4 linked regions of the Homo sapiens genome follow. The protein of the gene in region 3 interacts with the protein of the main gene of each other region in a biochemical or structural test. Each region holds a gene or a part of one and is shown on either strand. Other genes may lie near its edges.

Region 1 (4,480 bases), on a different chromosome or scaffold from region 3:
CTGACAGTTTAAGTCCCCCAGAGCGGGGCTGGCAAGGGTGACTGTGTTCAGGGTGAATCTCCAACCATATCCATCCTTCCCCCTGCTAGTAAAGAAGGCTGACACCCAGACTGCCCCAAAGGGAAATTTGAGTACTGGGCAGAGAGATCAAAGAAGAACAGTAAAATACCCATGTAAAGGGCAGAGAGTAAATATTTTAGGCTTTGCAAGCCATGTGGTTTCTGTCACAGCTATCCAACTCTCCCAAGAGCAGCCACAGTATACAAACAAAAGGGCATGGCTGTGTTTAAATAAAACTTTATTTATAAAAATGGTCATAAAGCTTTCTAAAATAAGTAAACACATCAGATGGGTTAAGTTTGCCAGCCCTGGCCCTAGGCCATGAAGCAGGACATCGCCCTGAGCCACAATTCAGTTGGGCATGTTTGGGATTTACACCAAAACTAATTCCAGACTCCACCACTGTATAGCTGAGACTGCTAACTGCTCCTGTACTAGGGTAAAGACCGGTGACTTGGATCGTGAACTTCAAAAGAGACAAATATCCAGGACTCCAGTTACAGGAACCATTGTAAAATCACCATGGTCAGTATGTTATCCAATGTTGAATCAATACAACAGCCTTGAATCAGCCAGATGGCCGCGTGTTCTCCCCCACACCAGTCTCTGACCAGATAAATAACTGTGCCAGTTCAATAGAAAAATACACTCATTCCTACATTCATTAGGAAAATTTTACCATTAATTTTATGAACTTTTGCCTACTGCTTTCTTTGAACCTCATCTTTGTCAGGTAATCATGTTCTTATTTTCAATTAAGCAAATCTCATAAAACTTGTGAAGCCTATAAAAAATAACCAAAATAAAAATTAAAACCCTATAGTAAATTGTAATTGCAGGGAAATTACTTTTCATTTTCAAACTTTGGAAACATTTCTTTCATAGAAATGATTGTGTTTTCCTAGCTTTCAAAAAAGACTTTCTAAAATAAAAACTTACTGACATCTATAAAAACCCATTTCAATATCATCATAACTTTGCTTATTGAGCTTAAAGCAGTAAAACAGAGACTCCTTGGAAATACAAGTTGATGACTTTTTAACCATCAATCACCAAATATATATATTATATTTTATATATATAATATATATATACTTCAAATGTAAAAACAGAAATAAAAGTTTATTCTCTGAGACCAAGTCCAAGAGCAGGCTATTTACTTTTAACATGTACATTGTATTCCGTTATATTCAATAAAGAAGTACTGACATGGTAATTGTTCAGCTAAACAAATATGACAATTTGTTTGCAACAAATGTTAGAATGAATTGTATATGACTTCACTCACTAATTATTTAGTATAGACTATTTATCTTATGCCAAATTCTGTAAACCATACTTGAAAATATATTTCTGAAAGAACAGTTCTGGCAGAAAACCCTTCTCATCTCTTTGCCAGGAAAAAAAAAAAAATGGGAATGTTAACTTTGTTATCTAAAACTAAGGCTTAGATTTCTTCAAGATAATTTTCAGAGCTTAAGTACATAATGACCTAAATTACTCAGAAGCAAGGCAGCATACTTTTGATATATGTTTTTGCTGTAAAGAACTAAAGGTAGTCTATGATTTCTCATTATAATGCTCTCAGTCAAATCATAGGAAAGTTAGATTAAACTCAACTCCAAATTGATACAGCCTACCTCCATTCCTCTGACTACAACTAAATCCACTTATCTGGTTTTATTTCCATTTGGAAACAGATTAGTGAAGGTCATTAGCCATTAGGACCAGATGGCTCAAGTGTACTGTAAGGAAATACTAGGCATTCTCCTGTTGACTTGATTATCAGTTCACCAGCACACATTGGTTGAGGCTATACAAGTAGTATCACCCATTCTTTTTCCATACATTTTGAACTGGATATTTATGGAAGGCAAACATCACCTTAACAAGCAACTCTCCAGCTCCCCAAAAATATCAGGTCAACTTAGTGACCAAAGAATAAGCATGCATAATTTTTCCAAGTGCAACAAATTAGTAGGACAATTATGTCCACTTCTAATGGTCAGTTTCCAACAGTTCAAGAAGTAATTTGAGATCAGAAGTTTCAATAAAGATAAGGTCTATATTAACTGGTAATGTGCATTAGTGAATTCAAGTATTTATTATAATATGCTCAATTTGACGTGTGTGCCCGCATGTGTGCTGATAATGATAAAGAAGCGAAAACAGGAAAAGGCATTGTTTAACCCAGGGGTCAGTGAATTCAAGTATTTATTATAATATGCTCGATTTGACATGTGTGTGCCCACATGTGTGCTGCTAATGATAAAGAAGAGAAAACAGGAAAAAGGCATTGTTTAACCCAGGGGTCAGTTAACTTTTTCTGTAAAGAGCCAGAGAGTAAATATTTTAGGCTTTGTAGGCCATAAGGTCTCTGTGGCATCTATTCAACTTTGCTGTTGTCAGGCAAATGCAGCCATAGATAATACATAAATGAATGGACATGTGTTCCAATAAAACTTTATTTATGGACACTGAAATTTTAATTTCATATTATTCTTTTTTTGATATTTTTGAACCATTTAAAAATAAAGAAACCATTCTTTGCTCACAGGCTATGCCATAACAGTCAGCAAGCCAGATTTGGCTCATAGGCCACAGTATGCCAACCCCTGTTTTAGCCTATTCATAATTTTCTTTTCCTGCTATGATTAGCTTTCAAGATTAAAGATCATTTGATGGTAACAGTGGTAGATTTCAGGACGGTATGCTTAAACAAAGATTTTAAACGGTCTTGAGTTTTCTTATTGAGCCAAGTGTGAAACCAGTGGTTTCAAGTTCATTCCTTAAAGATACATTTCTAGTTCACCAATAATGTACATTCTCTTACAGCTAAACTTCCACGGTTAACCTCAAATGAAATAACAAAGTACTAAAGTTGAACAGTGTATGTGTATGTAAAGGGGGAGAATGAACAGCTGGAAGGACCATAAGCAGAAAGTGAGACTTTCCAGGTCATGCATTTAAAGTACAAGTAAGTTTCACTGCAGCTGTCAGTCTGTACCAAATTCTGATAGCAAGAAGGTGAAACTCACTTGCCCCAGACAATAAGAGAGAGAGAGAGAGATGCTTGAAATGGTACAAAGCCTGACCTAGACGCCTTCTTCCCAGAACTGCGAGCGACTAGACTTTCACAGCTTCAAACTAGCAACTCTTGGGAAACTAGAGTTAAATATTCCTAAAACAGGAATCTAGTTCTGTTATGAAACTGTTCATCATTTCACCTCCTGACAGTCACAAAAATCAGCAGAACTTAGAAAGGATTCAGAAGATGAGCAAGTAGCATTTTTAATAAAATTCAAATCCAGAGTCTTTGGGGTTTTTTCATTGCTAGCCTCCAGAGCTCACTATTATCAGCAATATTAATACAATTACTCAGTAAAAATAGGGGATATGGGAAAAACCCTGACCTTTTGCATTACTTCTTTAACTTCCCCTTTTCCCTGGGAAATATTTAATTCTGAATAAGATAAAGGTAAAAGACAGAAGTTTAGTAGTATCTAAATGGACTTGACATAAAAATCTAAGGAAACTATACATATGTATTTTGTATTTTTCCTCAAATATAAGATACTTGTAAGAAAATTAGCATTCTAATATTAGATATTAGTCACTGCTATATACCACAAAATAACCCATGCAACTATAAGAAAATGCAAAGTAAAGCATTCCCCAAATTTACCTACTACTATAAGAAATCATCATATCAACAGTGGGGACTCAATCATTATCATCAAGTCTACCGTTTTGCTTAAAGAAAAGAAGCCAAATCAGGGACTTAATCTATGAACATATCACTCAATTTAATAACATCCCTATGAGTTTTGGATCTCAAATCATCTCCCTCTGGCAAAAGGGGCATAATCATATGTTTTTCTACTGGACTGCATTCTTCTATAAACATTTGAAAGAATGCATCTGCTTTACAAATAAAATAGTCAATACAAAGAGCAGTAACAATAAAAATATATGCCTGTTTTTATACTATTACTGGTTTATAAGGCAATCATCTGTAATGCTCTCATCTACAAGGATGGAAAATAATATAGAACTGTTACCAAGGAAACAGTGAAGTAAAACTGCATGTAAACTATCAAGCAGTTTAAGAACCAGAAAATTAGAAGAACGGGAAAAACCATCTTCAGATAGAACCATGACACACTGTGCCACCCACGAAGGATGCAATCAAGGGTCATAACTCTAACTGATGATGTAAAGGGTGCCAACTACTTACCAGCAATTCCAACACTTGGCAGCAATTTTTTTTTAATGGTACTGGGTTATTGAGGGGCACTGTCAATTCTGATTTTTCCCACGATTAAAAGGGTATAGATTCTGGAAACGAATAGTTAAATGTAGACACTCTAAAAAGTCAAAATATGCAGTTTATTTATTCCAGTGTCGAATAATATTCTCT
Region 2 (4,480 bases), on a different chromosome or scaffold from region 3:
ACTGGTCCCTGGACTTCTCTTTGCTCCTGTCACTGTCTTTTCTTTCCTGTTGTTAGCCTTGGGAGATGCATTTTGAAATACGATTTGGAAACCATCCAGGTCAATTTGATTCAGATGAAGAGGATGCTGCTGAAGGAAGTATGGCTTGTAGTACATAGGGAGGGACTTGGCAGACCAAGAGGGCTCTGGGGACAAGTACGAGAGGGCCAGGGGCTCAGGATTGGAGCTGTGCCTCCCAGTTGGTAGCCTGGATGTGGCAGGCCTCTGGTGGCCTGACTCAGTTGGCAGCTCAGTGTCTCGCTCCTGGAGCATTTGAGTTTTGTGCTGCATGTGACCTCTCAGTGGTGTGTTCTGAATTGGAGTCTCTTTCTTGTTGGCTTGCAGAGGGAGTGACATCCAACACCAGTGACAGCGAAAGCAGTTCCAGTAAGTGTGTGTCATTCCTTCCATGTCGTGTAGCTCCACTGTGTATCCCAGCCATCCTCATTCCAGTGTTGCACAGCTGCCATTGCTGCTCAGAGGCTGGTGCTTCTTTTAGCCATGTACACTTTGAGATCCTAGAAATGCTGTGGCCAGTTCATTCTCCTTATGGGTTGGGGTTCACCCCATGGATTAAAGGAGAGTATAAGCCCTATAGTGCTGGCCGGGACCTGACTTAAAAGCATCCCTGGCACTGGGAAGGGTAAACTGCCAAAGAGTAAATCCCTGCCATGGGTACTGTGGGCCATAGGTGCTGCCAGGTTTATAGATTTGCTCAGAGACCAAAAGAAAAATGGCTCCTCTAGGACACTGCCCTAAATCTGCCTTTCCAGGTCATTAGGACCTCTTTGCCTTTGGGGCCAGTTAAAGGATGAGGTAATTGCCAAGTTCTCCTTGGGAGATCCTGTGACCAGACCAGAGAAACCGTAATTCAAACCTCATGAACTTTGGGAGCACTGGTTTTTCAGGAGCTATGGTGGCTAGAAGCCTTGTAAAATCTGCCCAGGAATATTAGGCTCAGAAGAAGCCTTTTAGCAAGCATTGTGTGCCTTGATGCAAATATCACTGTTTTCCCTGGGACTGCCATCAGCCACTTTGGGACCTCCAGGCACCCAGCACCGAGTGGCTTGACGACTGTTTTAGGAAAACCTCAACATTGCTAGGCTCGACATGGGGCTCCACCAGGAAGAGACAGCAGGTTCAGCATTGCTCTTAAAGGGCACTGGGGACCTTAGCAGAGCCATGTGCCACTTTTCTGGATGCTGCTTCCAATGCAGGAGGTGGGTTGGTAGACCTTTAAAAGGGCAAAGTTAGGCTGCTTGGGGACCTGGGTGTGTGCCCTGACTCCCCTGCATGTTGATGAAGGGGACTCGGGCAAGCATCTCAACCAGTCAAAGTGTCCCTGTCATTCTTACCAGAGCAAGGGGGCTACTGCACACAGCTGACTTGTTACCTACAAGAAGAGTTCCTCACAAATTGGGGTGGTTTGGGGTGGAGGCTTCATGGCTTCTGGGCCTTGGCCCTTTGCCCAGTGATATTTCACTGAACAAGAGAACTGCTGACTCCTGTCTCAGAGCCAGTGAAGGGTTTCATGTGCTTTCTCACCAGCAGAAAACAGAAAGGATCACAGGTGGTGGCAAGGACCACCTGATAAGGCTGTGTCCTGGCAGGGGAGGGGTACGGGGAGTACTGTACAGAAGGAGGCAGATCATATGGTGCTAACCTATCTCTCTTTTTTGTTGCAGAAGGACAAGAGGATGCTATTTTGTCATATGAGCCAGTGACACGGCAAGAAAGTAAGCCTCCTCTGAGAGCCTTGTCTTCGTGCTGGTCTCCTGGTCGTGGGGCTCAATACAGTGGGTGGCTGTGGCAGCAGAGGGAGGGACCTGGAGGAGGAGGAAGGCTTGACTCATGGCACATCCAGCCCCTGGGCTCCTTCTTCTCTATGCTTCTTCCTAGTGTCATAGGGAAGGGGGTGCATCCAGTGTGCACTTCTCTCTGTGCCTTTGCCTGCTGCCAGGACACCTTCCAAAGGAGGGGGCAAATTTACAAGGAAAGTCTATTTCAGTAGATGTAGCCACTGCTAAAAGAGAGGTCCAGGTTCTTCCCTTCAGTGGCTGCTCTGCAAAAACCTTGCTCAGTTACTGGTGTCAGTGCAGAGATTTTTTCTGACTCTGTTAGAAGGGGAGCAGCTTCCGGTTTCAGACTTGCCTTGAACTTAGATATTCTCAAATTAAAGGCTCTTTGATGTCTTTCTGTTTAAAAGCCAGACAATGTCTGAGGATGCTTTACCCTGTCTGAGTCTCTGCTCCAGAGCCTCTGTGTTCTAGCCAGACTCAGGGGTAGGACAGGCTGTCTGGTGGGGGCCTCTGTTCACTGTCTCGATGCTCTCCCTCTCTAGTTCACTATGCAAGGCCTGTGATCATCCTGGGCCCAATGAAGGACCGAGTCAATGATGACCTGATCTCCGAATTTCCACATAAATTTGGATCCTGTGTGCCACGTAAGAGTCCAGGAAGGCCCAGAGGAGTGAGGCTTGGTGCCCTGGGAATTGTTGCTCTAATGTTTTATGGAAAAGGTCTGGGATCAGATTCTAGGGCTATTTGGGGACAGGGTACATTTGACACGCTGGAAAACAGTAGGTGGCAATATATTCCCCAAAAGCTGATGGGGTTGGAGAGATTAAGCCATCAGGCTTGGCTGCTCACTCTTGAGGGGAAGTTTCAGTGGTGATGGTTGAGAATGATTGGACAAATACGGAGGCCCAGCCAAAGTGGTGTTGATGTGACTCCATTAACAGTTTGTTAGGTTCACTGTCTCCTCTACCAAGTTTGGCACCCTCTGCCATGCTTTAGCTCAGGAAACCCCACCTTTCTAGTCCAGTTTAAGCTAAAGCAAATAGCCCCCTGTGTGAGACCTGGAGATTGGAAGAGAAGTAGGCCAGACAAACCGCTTCCCAACTGCTTGTTTTCTCCCACTTACTTGAAAAAAAAAATGGAGTGGCCCAGTGACCCACCCAGATGAGAATGGACCAGTCAGTATTTTTTGGTTTGGGGCGGATCACTGCCCCTGGGCCACAAAGCATTTCCTTTCTTCCTTCAGATACTACCCGGCCTCGACGTGATAATGAGGTGGATGGACAAGACTACCACTTTGTGGTGTCCCGAGAACAAATGGAGAAAGATATTCAGGACAACAAGTTCATCGAGGCGGGCCAATTTAATGATAACCTCTATGGGACCAGCATCCAGTCAGTGCGGGCAGTTGCAGAGAGGGTAAGTGTACAGGAGATGGCCTCAAAGGGGAGGCCAATGCTTATGCCAAGGTTCCACTTGGATCCTTATCCTTCCAACACAGGAGCTGCCCAACAGTGCTGCTGACCAAAGCCATAGCACATCTGCATACTCCCAGCGCCTTGACGAAGCTATCTGTCTCCTTCATACAACTCACCCCAGAGCATTACCCAACAGGGAATAGGGGGCCCTGGACAGATGTGGCCTTTTCTGGGTAATAGGAGCAAAAAGTAGGGCCTGTCTACTTCAGAGATCGAATTTCTTAGGCCACTTTGGGTGGCCCTCGTGCCCCTCCCCTCACCCCCACCCCCGGCCAAGGTGGATGTTTAGAATGTCACTGGATTTCTGCTTGGGACTTGGTGAATAGGGAGTGGCTGGGCTGTTACAATCTCTGCTTTTTCAGGGCAAGCACTGCATCTTAGATGTTTCCGGCAATGCTATCAAGAGACTGCAGCAAGCACAACTTTACCCCATTGCCATTTTCATCAAGCCCAAGTCCATTGAAGCCCTTATGTAAGTGTTGAACTGAGAACTCAGACACACCAAGCTAAGATCGGGTCTGGAAGGGAAATGGAGAAGAAAGTGATTTGCTGGGCAGAAACTTGAAAGAAACTCTGTGCCCCAGCTCTGGTCACTGGGCGCTCCTGTTTTGAGGGCTTGTGCATATGTTCATGGTTGGACTTTTGAACGCAGGTTTGAGGAGTTAGCTACGGGCCACTGCTGCTCTGAGAGGGCAGCTTAGCAGATTTTTAGGGATCCTGGAATAATCCTTTATGGTTAATCAGAACATAAGATCTGGTTCAGAACTATTTTTCTTCTGTCTTTGGCAGGGAAATGAACCGAAGGCAGACATATGAACAAGCAAATAAGATCTATGACAAAGCCATGAAACTGGAGCAGGAATTTGGAGAGTACTTTACAGGTAAGACTCCTGCTGCCCTGCGGGGGGTTCTGGGGAACTAGCCAGGTACCTGTTTCTATAAGTGTCTCAAAGAGGTGTAGACAGAATGTAGAAACCTTGCACGGAGTTTCCAGTTGCTTTTAAGTTTTTGAGCACAAACCTTTCCAAAGCACACAAGTTCCCCGTGTCCAGCCATAGCAGTTCAGCCAGTTTATAGCATAAACCACTCACCAAATGCTTCCTTGAATTGTTGGTTTGTTCATTTTGTCTTGTCCTTACTAGATTGTAGGCTCCCTGTATTACTCTG
Region 3 (5,341 bases):
ACAGGCATGAGCCACTGTGCCTGGCTGAAGGTGAAACATTTTTAAGGCCTATTCCCAGAGGTCTATTTTTTCACAAAACTTAAGCATGAGGTAACATTTGCAGCGAGGGGTAGGGTGATTTTTTTTTTCTCCTCCATCTTCTTCCTCACTTAAACCCTGAAATTGTGTCTTAACCATTGACTCCTTCTATACCTATCCTTTTTCAGTGAAGACTTTTAGACATTAGGTTTTGATTTTTGCCCTTTTATGATATTTATTTAAAAACAGCATTTGGAATTTTTTCATTATAAAAACTGAAATTAGACCTCAGTTGAACTTGATGCGTGTTTTTTGGACATTCAGTTTGTATATTTTTCAGTCATTTTTTACATAGTAAGCACAATTTGTCCATCAGTAGATCATAGGAACCAGGAATCTTACGTTCTTCTTCCCAGCTGTGTAAGTTTTCAGAGCTTCAGATAGCATCCATGTAAAATGGGAATAATTGTATTCTGCCCTCTTTATCTACATTGTTATATTAAATGAGCACGTGCATTTAAATACTTCAGAAACAATAGTGGGAAGTCTTTTTAAAAAGGCAAAACTCTTCTTTGCTTTTAGGTGTCAGATGTGCTTAATCTTTGGAATGGGGAAGAGATGGGAAGGGCACATGAGGCTTCTGGGAGCTGAGGATGTTTTGTTTCTGGGTGCTGGTTACATAGGTATATTTGACTTAGTGAAAATTAGTGACACTGTGCAATTGTCATTTGTACACAAATCATATGTTCATTGTTAGACTTCAATTTAAAAGTTTACTTTAAAAAAGCAATTCATAAAATAACGTGCTATACCAAAGTAGGCAGCTTTGTTAAGATGCGCTGTCGTTGAGACACAGCCCAGGGGCAGACTCAGATTTCCTGATTGGGTTACACAGCCCCAGTGTTTGCTGCATAAAGAAGGATGTCTTTTATCTTGGCGTCTGGCCGTGTTCTTAGATGTGCAGTGTTGGTTGGTGTTTGTCCTTGTTATATAAGCAGTTTCACAGTGTAAGGATTATGGGTATCAGGTCACCTGCAGAGTCTCACTGCCCTTACTGGCCCTGGCCTCGTTGCCGCTGTCTGCACAGGGCTCTTACTCTGCTTGCTAGGCTCAGGGTCCTTGGATGAGGGCCTCAGGATAGCACTTACTGATTCCATCTCCCATCAGGATTTCTTTCACATAAGCTTTTTATCTTCACCTTATCCTATTACACGTTTTAATACAAAACAATGAGTCCCTGTAATCCATGAAAATCCTCCTTGAAACAAAACTAGTGAATCTGGTTTAAAATGCTGTTAAAATAAAAAAGGAATCTCTTTAGAGTGACACTGTGGGTTTTTGTTTTCTCCCCCAGGAAATCATAAGTGCGCTGCCATTTGTCAAGCTTTCCTTAGATGACTTCCCAGACAACAAAGACATCCACAGTGACCTGCACGCCTACGTCCAGCACAGGGTGCACAGCAGCCAGGACATCCTCAGCAACATCTCCCTGAATGGCAAGGCCGATGCCACACTCATTGGAAAAGTGAGCAGCCACCTGGTGCTGCGGAGCCTCGGCTCCTACCTGTACCTCAAGCTCACCCTGGACCTTTTCCAGAGGGGCCACTTGGTCATTAAGAGTGCCAGCTACAAGGTGGTGCCCGTGTCTCTCTCTGAGCTCTATTTGCTTCAGTGCAACATGAAGTTCATGACCCAGTCCGCCTTTGAGAGGGCACTTCCGATTCTCAACGTGGCCCTCGCATCCCTCCACCCCATGACAGACGAGCAGATCTTTCAGGCTATTAATGCTGGCCACATCCAGGGGGAGCAGGGATGGGAAGACTTTCAGCAGAGGATGGACGCCCTCTCCTGCTTCCTCATTAAGAGGCGAGACAAAACCCGCATGTTCTGCCACCCGTCCTTCAGGGAGTGGCTTGTATGGAGAGCAGACGGGGAAAACACGGCCTTCCTGTGTGAGCCCAGGTACGGCAGGCGCTTTCTTTCAGCTCTTTGCAGGGAATCTCGTGTGCAGTTGGGGAAAGGATTTAAATGTGATGCACGTGTCTCAATGGAAGGGCAATCCAGAATGACTAATTCAGTGTTACTGCTTTGTTTTATTATTTTTCTTCCTTTTTGGCAGAAGGATGGGCAATGGGGAATTCTCTATACAGAAGCTGCCTTCTAATTGCTAGGACTCCCTTATGGATGGTACATGTGGATAAAAGAGAAGCTGGGTGGTGCCTGTGTGGTCCTTCCTTACTGTCCATTGTCTCATGGAGCCCCGTCTCCTCCCCCACCCAGCTTCTGCAGGATCATGCATGGGAATGTGTGAGATCAGCCCCTGGGAACAGGGGGCTTCTCTAGAGGGAGTTCCCTGTGTGTCTGCAGACTGTCATGGGTCCTCAGCACCTCCACTCCCCTGCCACCCCTTGAACATGGAGTGACTTGTCCCAGGGATCAGGTATATCTGTGAGCCCAGAGGGAGCACCATGATCCAATCTAGCCTCCCCGCTCCACACCCTTCACCCTTTGTGGATGAGCTCTGTGTGGTGGACTGGACCAGGCTGGGATGCAGTTCTCCTTGCTGCCTGGGCCGCTGTTATCACAGTGGGATGGGGAAGGAAGCCTGTCTGCTGTGTGGCTTGGTAACAGTGTGAGAGGTCAGAAAGTTTGAGGATGCAGATGCGTTCAGATATGTATATGGCAAGCCCCCAACTTCCACTTGGCCCTGGCTTTGGCCTGTGTCTCTGCTGTCTCGAGTGGCTTCGGCTATCTGTGAGCCAGAATTGCCCCCTGCTGTAGTAACAGGGCTGGCAAGCTGCTCAGCTGACCCCTTAGGCATTTGACCAGATGCTGGGATCCAGAAATGAAGAGGTGAACAAGCATTGGTGAGCCCTGGGAGCCTCACAGCCACTTTCCTCCCTGTGAATATTGACTGAACATCCACCTGATAGGCCTGGCTGCTGTTCATGTTGGGGCTGTTATTATTTTCTTCAGTAACACTGGCTGAAGGTTTGTTGTTATCTTTTGAACCTGGTTTGGGGCAATAAACTAACATCCAGGTTATTTAGCCAGACCATAATAGCTAGGTGAAACATGTGCTGTGACATTTCTAGCCAAGTCAGATTACTTTCTAGGGAAATTCCAGTCATTTTCTAGGAAGATTGACTATAGCTGAGTTTGTAGAGACATAAAAACAAATTGAAAGACTCCATCAGGAGTGTAGGTTGTTACTGGGTTGGAGGCTAAAGTGGCTGGACTGTAGTCTTCATTAAGCTTCGCTTCATTTTGGGTATTGGTGGGCATTGAGGTTATGTAGCCTAGGTCAGAGCTAGGGTGGGTGCCTGTGGGCTCCTGAATGCCACTGTGTTCTTAAAAGCAGGCATGGGGACATCCCCTGGGGCAGGACCTGGACTAGGTGGAGGCAAGAGAGGTACCAAGGGTGCAGAATTTAAGGAAGCACCCACTCCTGGGTGGTGCGAGTTGTTGCCATTTTCCCAAGACACCTGTAGTATTTGAGCTTCATTCAATTGAGAGGATATAGAACAATGTTGGAAGGAAGCTACTGGATTCAGTTCAGCAACAGTTTTTGTTATATGCAGTTATGTGCAAAGTACTGTGGCAGACACCAATTGTTGGGACAAGGACCCTGCTCTCAGGGCTTCCCACACAGGGCAGGGGAGGCAGGAGGTGATATGCGAGAGGGAGGCACACTTCATGTGGACCTCACAAGAGGGAGAAGCTCCCAGCGTAAGTAAAGGGGCCTGGGGAGGTGATTTTAAAACATGGTGATGGTGGGTTGGGCCTCGAAAAATGGTAGCATTTCTTCCCCAACTCCCAGTTGTCGTATTTTTGCCCTAATTATAAAAGCAGAAAATTTCAACCCTCAGACAAAGACAGTTCATTTTTTATTTCTGCCTCTTTCTGTAGCATTTTAAATGATATACCAATCTTCTTTTTCTCTTGGAATTCTTATCTGGGTTTTTGCTTAACACATCACGGGCACCTTACTAAGCTGTTAGAAGTCTTAGAAAAGTGTCATTTTCATTTTTCATGGTTGTGCAAAACTCCTAGGAGGCAAATTATTATGTACTTCACTATACCCTCATTGGATTTTTTTGCTTTTTTTTTTTTTCAGACGGAGTCTCGCTGTCGCCCAGGCTAGAGTGCAGTGGTGTGATCTCAGCTCACTGCAGGCTCCGCCCCCTGGGGTTCACACCATTCTCCTGCCTCAGCCTTCCCACGTAGCTGGGACTACAGGCGCCCGCCACCTCATCCGGCTAACTTTTTGTATTTTTAGTAGAGACGGGGTTTCACCGTGTTAGCCAGGATGGTCTCAATCTCCTGACCTCGTGATCCGCCCGCCTCGGCCTCCCAGAGTGCTGGGATTACAGGCGTGAGCCACTGCGCCCGGCCCCCTCGTTAGATTTTTAAGTTGTTTCTAAATTACTTACAAACAGAACAACCTGTCATGTCTTGGTGCCTTGCAGGTCTGGATTCAAATCTTCCATTGATTCTTGTATATTTTTCTCTGCATGAAATATATTTTAATTCTCCATGCCTTCCTTCCTTATCTATAAAAAATGAGTGTCTTCTCACTGAGTGCTGGTAGCTATTAAATCAGATCTTAAGACGATGTACTACCTCTCTTCTTTCCTTTCTTCTCTCTTAGTTTTGATTATGCCCTAGGTTAGCATTCCAGAAATAGAATTATGAAGATAAAGAATAGTTTGAGTCTGGCCGGGTGCGGTGGCTTACGTGCGTAATCCTAGCACTTTGGGAGGCAGAGATGGGTGGATCACCTGAGGTCAGGGGTTCGAGACCAGCCTGGCCAACATGGTGAACCCAGTCTCTACTAAAAATACAAAAAAAAGAAAAATTAGCCGGGTGTGGTGGCAAGCACCTGTAATCCCAGCTGCTTGGGAGGCTGAGGTAGGAGAATTGCTTGAACCCAGGAGGCGAAGGTTGCAGTGAGTCGAGATCGTGCCACTACACTCCAGCCTGGGCAACAAGAACAAAACTGTCTCAAAAAAAAAGAAAGAGTTTTCATTCATATCACCTAGACTTAAACATATTTACATTTTGCAATATTTGCTACATCTGTTTCCTTTTTTTTTGTTGAAGTATGTTAAATTGTAAACATGACATTTTACTTTAAATAACTGAATATTCATCTTAGAGATATTTTCATACTTAACCACGCTATTACTGCACCTAAAATATTAATGCAAATTCTTAATAATCTTAAACATTTAGCCATGCTCAAATTTCTATTTTTTAGTATGTTCACATCAGGATCCAAAAAGTCCATAAAATGCATTCGATTATCTCTCTTAATCTATAG
Region 4 (4,480 bases), on a different chromosome or scaffold from region 3:
CGCACATCGGTCAGGTTTCTGTCTGCTAAGCCGGGGGAAAGCCATGTGACCCTGGGCAAGTTACTCAGCCTCTCCTGACCTCAGCTTCTTCATCTGTGAACTGGGAGTTAGAACAAATGACCACAAAGTTCTGTTCCGTTTTCATCATCTGTAACTCTCTAAGACAGCGCTGTCCAGCAGGACTTCCTGCCGTGGTGAAATGTTCTCTGACTGCACTGTCTCATACGGGAGCCACTGGCCGCATATGGCTAGTGAGCATGTGAAGTATGGCTGGTTTCTTGTCTTAATTTATTTAAATTTAAGTAGCCACATATAACTAGTGGCTACCATACTAGACAGTGCAGCTCCACGATACAGAAGAAACTATATTCGATAGAGGAAAATGTAACAAGATCTCAGCGTGGCAGTTCATGGATGTCACAGGCAAATCATGCCAACTAGGAATAATATAAATTCTCCTGAACGCACAACAACAACAGTCCTGTTTCCTTTGAGGAGGCAAGAGTCCTATGAAGCAGAACCATCCGCAGAAGTGAGACAGAAGGAAAAAAGCTTTCAGAAGGGATGGGCTGTGCATCTGCATGAGCTTGCCTGGCAGAGCCTGGTTCAGTAATGAAACCACCAGAGGAGCTGGACACATTTCCCTGTCACCCTTCTAAAGCAGCGGGGAAGGGAGCAAAGTTTTCAGCAGTTTCCAGATCCACCCTGCCTCCTATCCCTTTTCCCCAAAACCATGTGACAGTGTCTAGGCCAGATGCGGTCAGGGGTGGTCAGTGGGCCCTGGGTGTACTCAAATCCCGCTGACAACCTATGCAGCTGAGGTTCCAGGGAAACATACAGCCCCCAGCTGCCAGGCCCCTACAGTCAGTAGTGTTTGCTCTAATAAAATATTAACCCAGTTATTAATATCTCCTCCTTCCCCATGATGAAGGAGTTTATCCGAGAACAATCCGGCACAAAGCTACCTGACCCAGAAGTCATCCAGTTCTGTGTCTCCATCTTCAAATGCTCCAGGCTCCTGCTCACCTGACGGCGTTGATCAGCAGCTCTTAGATGACTTCCACAGGGTGACCAAAGGGGGCTCCACCGAGGACGCCAGCCAGTACTACTGTGACAAGGTGAGCGAGCGCAGGCAGCCGGGTGATCCACACACCCAGGGCTTCCCGGCCTCTTGTGGGCAGCTGAGTAGCTCTAACTAAATGAAAATATCTTATCACCAACTGCTGGAGAGAGATGTGATGCAAATGACCACTTTCAAACCGTTTTCCAGAATGATAATGGTGACAGCTACTTAGTCTTGATCCGTATCACACCAGATGAAGATGGAAAATTTGGATTTAATCTTAAGGTATGTTGTGTATTTATAAAGGAAGTTTTGTGCTGGGAAGCAATCTTTCAATGAGTTTTTAATTTGCATTACAAATGTGCTGCATTCCTGAGCTACATAAGGAAGTTGGTTCAACCCTCAGAATTGAGAGTTGGGGGTTTTTTTTGTTTTTGTTTGGTTTGAGATATTTGGGGTTTTTTTTGTTTTTTTTTAAAAACTCACTTTATCGCCCAAACCTAGAGTGCAGTGGCACGATCGCAGCTCACTGCAGCGCTGACCTCCCCAGGCTCAGGTGATCCTCCCACCTCAGCTGGGACTATAGGGATGCACCACCATACCCAGCTAATTTTTTTCATATTTTTTGTAGAGATGGGGTTTCACCATGTTGTCCAAGCTGGTCTCAAACACCTGGCAATCTACTCACTTTGGCCTCCCAAAGTGCCGGGATTACAGGCGTGAACCACCGCACCCAGCCTAGAATTGAGAGGTTTTTTTTAATGTGGCCTTAACAGCTGCCGAAGGCCAAGTGCCTGCTCTGTGCCTGGCATTGGCTATCCACTAGATTCATAGCACCTTCTTAAGTTCTGATAACAAGTGGTAAGGTCAGTATTTTTAAACCCATTTTGCAAATGAATACTGAGGTTCCCAGAAATGAGGGCACACAGTTGGCAAACAGATCTACCCACTTCAGGAATGCTATTAAGAGAACCCCTCAGCATTGCTAAAGCTGATAAGAGAAAAACAATTCAAGTTCAACCTGCAGGGCCACCACTCTCCTCCAGGCACCTTTAAGCAGGATCTGCAAACTAAACCCACAGGCCAAATCCCATCTGTTTCTGTAACTAGTTTTTTTGGTAACAGCCACAGCCATTTGTTTACTGGTGGGTTAATGACTGCAGAGTTGAGCAGTTGAATCAGAGCCCTCACTCCCACAAAGCCTCTCTGGCCCTTTACAGAAAACGTTTACTCATCCCTACTCTAGGACAAAGTGAGGGCAGGTGGTCGCCTACCCCCCAGCTGCCATCATGCACAGCCTCATCTGCCCCAGCAGCTGTGTTGAGGACCAGCGCTCACAGGCCAGATGCGCTCACAGGGTGTGCCCCCTTCCCAGGCCTCGCTCGCCTCTGCTGAAAGCCCCTATATATATATATATAAAGCCCATATATATATATATTAAAGCCCATATATATATATAAAGCCCATATATATATATATATATATATTTTTTTTTTTTTTTTAATTATTATAAGTTCTAGGGTACATGTGCACAACGTGCAGGTTTGTTCTAGCAGCACTCGAAGACATGCTGTGGAGTCCCTCTCTGGGGGCATCTGCGTTTTTAAGGAGGAGCTTCTCTCTGAGTGTATCTGTTAGTTCATGGACTGTGGGGATGGCAGAGGGAGGCTTCTGAACAGAGTCCTGGTCAGCCCGCTGGATCCAGAGGGGTCAGGAATTTGTTCCATATTTCTGAAATGACGTGTGATTCGAATCAGTCATAGTGAAGTTTGAAGCCTCCCTGTACCAAAGACTCACATTTATTGGTACCTCCATGTTGTTGATGCTGTGAGCTACTCGTTTTTTTGTTTGTTTGTTTGTTTAACTTAAAAAACTTTGTTTTGTTTTTATTTTAAAATGTTTACAGGGAGGAGTGGATCAAAAGATGCCTCTTGTGGTATCAAGGATAAACCCAGAGTCACCTGTAAGTAAATACATTCCATGTTATTCCTCGTGTTTGTTTGTTTCCCCCTAATTCTAACAGGTTTCTGTTTCTGAGTCCTGTTTCTTTTTTTGCCAGAGCAAAGAATGTGCTTAGATATACATCACCATGTTTTCTATAACCTTGCGGCTCAGTGTGGTCTTTGAAGCCATAGCACCCATGTTACCTGGGACCTCATTAGAAATGCAGCATCTCTGGCCTCAGCTTAGGCCTGCTGAACCGGAATCTGCATTTTTAACAAGAGCCTTGAGTGGTTAGTGTGCATTCAATTTTGAGAAGTCCTTTTCAAGAGAAGGAAACTTAGGCAGTCTGCTGTTCTGCTCACTCTAAGTGGGCACGTGGGCCCTGTGCCTCTTCTCACCATCTTTCCACCAGTGCCCCTTTTGTCATCTGTGTAGGCCTCCTAAGAAGAGCATTTGCTTTGTTTTTCTTTCAAATTTATTTTATTGTTTTTAGGCCAGGCATAGTGGCTCACACCTGTAATCCCAGCACTTTGGGAGGCCGAGGAGGGTGAATCACTTGAGGCCAGGAGTTTGAGACCAACCTGCCTGGCCAACAGGGTGAAACCCATCTCTACAAAAAATACAAAAATTATCTGGGTGTGGTGGCACACAGGTGTGATCCCAGCTACTCAGGAGGCTGAGGCAGGAGAATTCCTTGAACCCAGGAGGCAGAGGTTGCAGTGAGCTGAGATCACGCCGCTGTACTCCAGCCTGAGCGACAGAGTGAGACTCTGTCTCAAAAATAAAATAAATTTATTTTATTGTTTTTAAAATAATATCAAGTAATTTTTTCGTTTAATTTTTTTATTGTGCATACTCAAGGTGTACAACATGATGTCTTGTTATACATATAGTACTGCAGTCAAACAAATTAACATGTTCATCACTTTCCATAGTTAACCTATTTTTCTTTTTTAAGAGACAGGGTCTCGCTCTTGCTCTGTCACCCAGGCTGGAATGCAGTGGTATGATCACTGCAGCCTCAAACTAGGCTCAAGCGATCCTCCTGCCTCTGCCTCCCAAGTCGCTGAGACCACAGGTGTGTCCCACCTCACCTGGCTCCATAGTTACCTTTTAATCATCTGCTTTTTTAAAGCAGTAGGAGTCACTGTGCCTCCTTACAGTGAACCACGTTGGGATTTTACTCTGAGGTAGTCCTTAAGCTCTTGTCATTTAACTTTTGTTACTGTTTACAGTTTCTGTAAATTCAGAAGGCTTTCTTTCCTGTGCTGTTCAATTCATTGCTTCTCTCCATAATGGTTTTTGCCTCTGTTGTGAAGCTTACAAAAGCTTTCACCTTTGCAAGACAGATAAATACTCACCTCTAGCTGGCAAATCATTTCCTAACAGTACATCTAGGAAACAAAAGGCTGGAAATGGTATAGTTATATTATAATAAGTGAAGGTTGACTACCACGGAGAAATGGCTTCAGC

What was found. The genes of interacting proteins can lie anywhere in the genome.
Region 1: the proteins of TANC1 (region 3) and FRMPD4 interact in a test that uses a peptide from one of them, tested with the Homo sapiens proteins (one large-scale study listed by IntAct).
Region 2: the proteins of TANC1 (region 3) and DLG3 interact in a test that uses a peptide from one of them, tested with the Homo sapiens proteins (one large-scale study listed by IntAct).
Region 4: the proteins of TANC1 (region 3) and PTPN3 interact in a test that uses a peptide from one of them, tested with the Homo sapiens proteins (one large-scale study listed by IntAct).

Annotation. Positions count from the first base shown.
Region 1 is NC_000023.11:12,141,434-12,145,913, reverse strand, and holds part of FRMPD4 (FERM and PDZ domain-containing protein 4), read right to left. Parts: intron 1-4,480. UniProt on the Homo sapiens protein: Positive regulator of dendritic spine morphogenesis and density. Required for the maintenance of excitatory synaptic transmission. Binds phosphatidylinositol 4,5-bisphosphate.
Region 2 is NC_000023.11:70,496,796-70,501,275, forward strand, and holds part of DLG3 (disks large homolog 3), read left to right. Parts: intron 1-384; coding exon of another isoform or gene 385-426; intron 427-1,724; coding exon 1,725-1,775; intron 1,776-2,380; coding exon 2,381-2,482; intron 2,483-3,081; coding exon 3,082-3,254; intron 3,255-3,675; coding exon 3,676-3,785; intron 3,786-4,102; coding exon 4,103-4,194; intron 4,195-4,480. UniProt on the Homo sapiens protein: Required for learning most likely through its role in synaptic plasticity following NMDA receptor signaling.
Region 3 is NC_000002.12:159,177,184-159,182,524, forward strand, and holds part of TANC1 (protein TANC1), read left to right. Parts: intron 1-1,372; coding exon 1,373-1,980; intron 1,981-5,341. UniProt on the Homo sapiens protein: May be a scaffold component in the postsynaptic density.
Region 4 is NC_000009.12:109,406,867-109,411,346, reverse strand, and holds part of PTPN3 (tyrosine-protein phosphatase non-receptor type 3), read left to right. Parts: intron 1-931; coding exon 932-1,118; intron 1,119-1,270; coding exon 1,271-1,348; intron 1,349-2,969; coding exon 2,970-3,026; intron 3,027-4,480.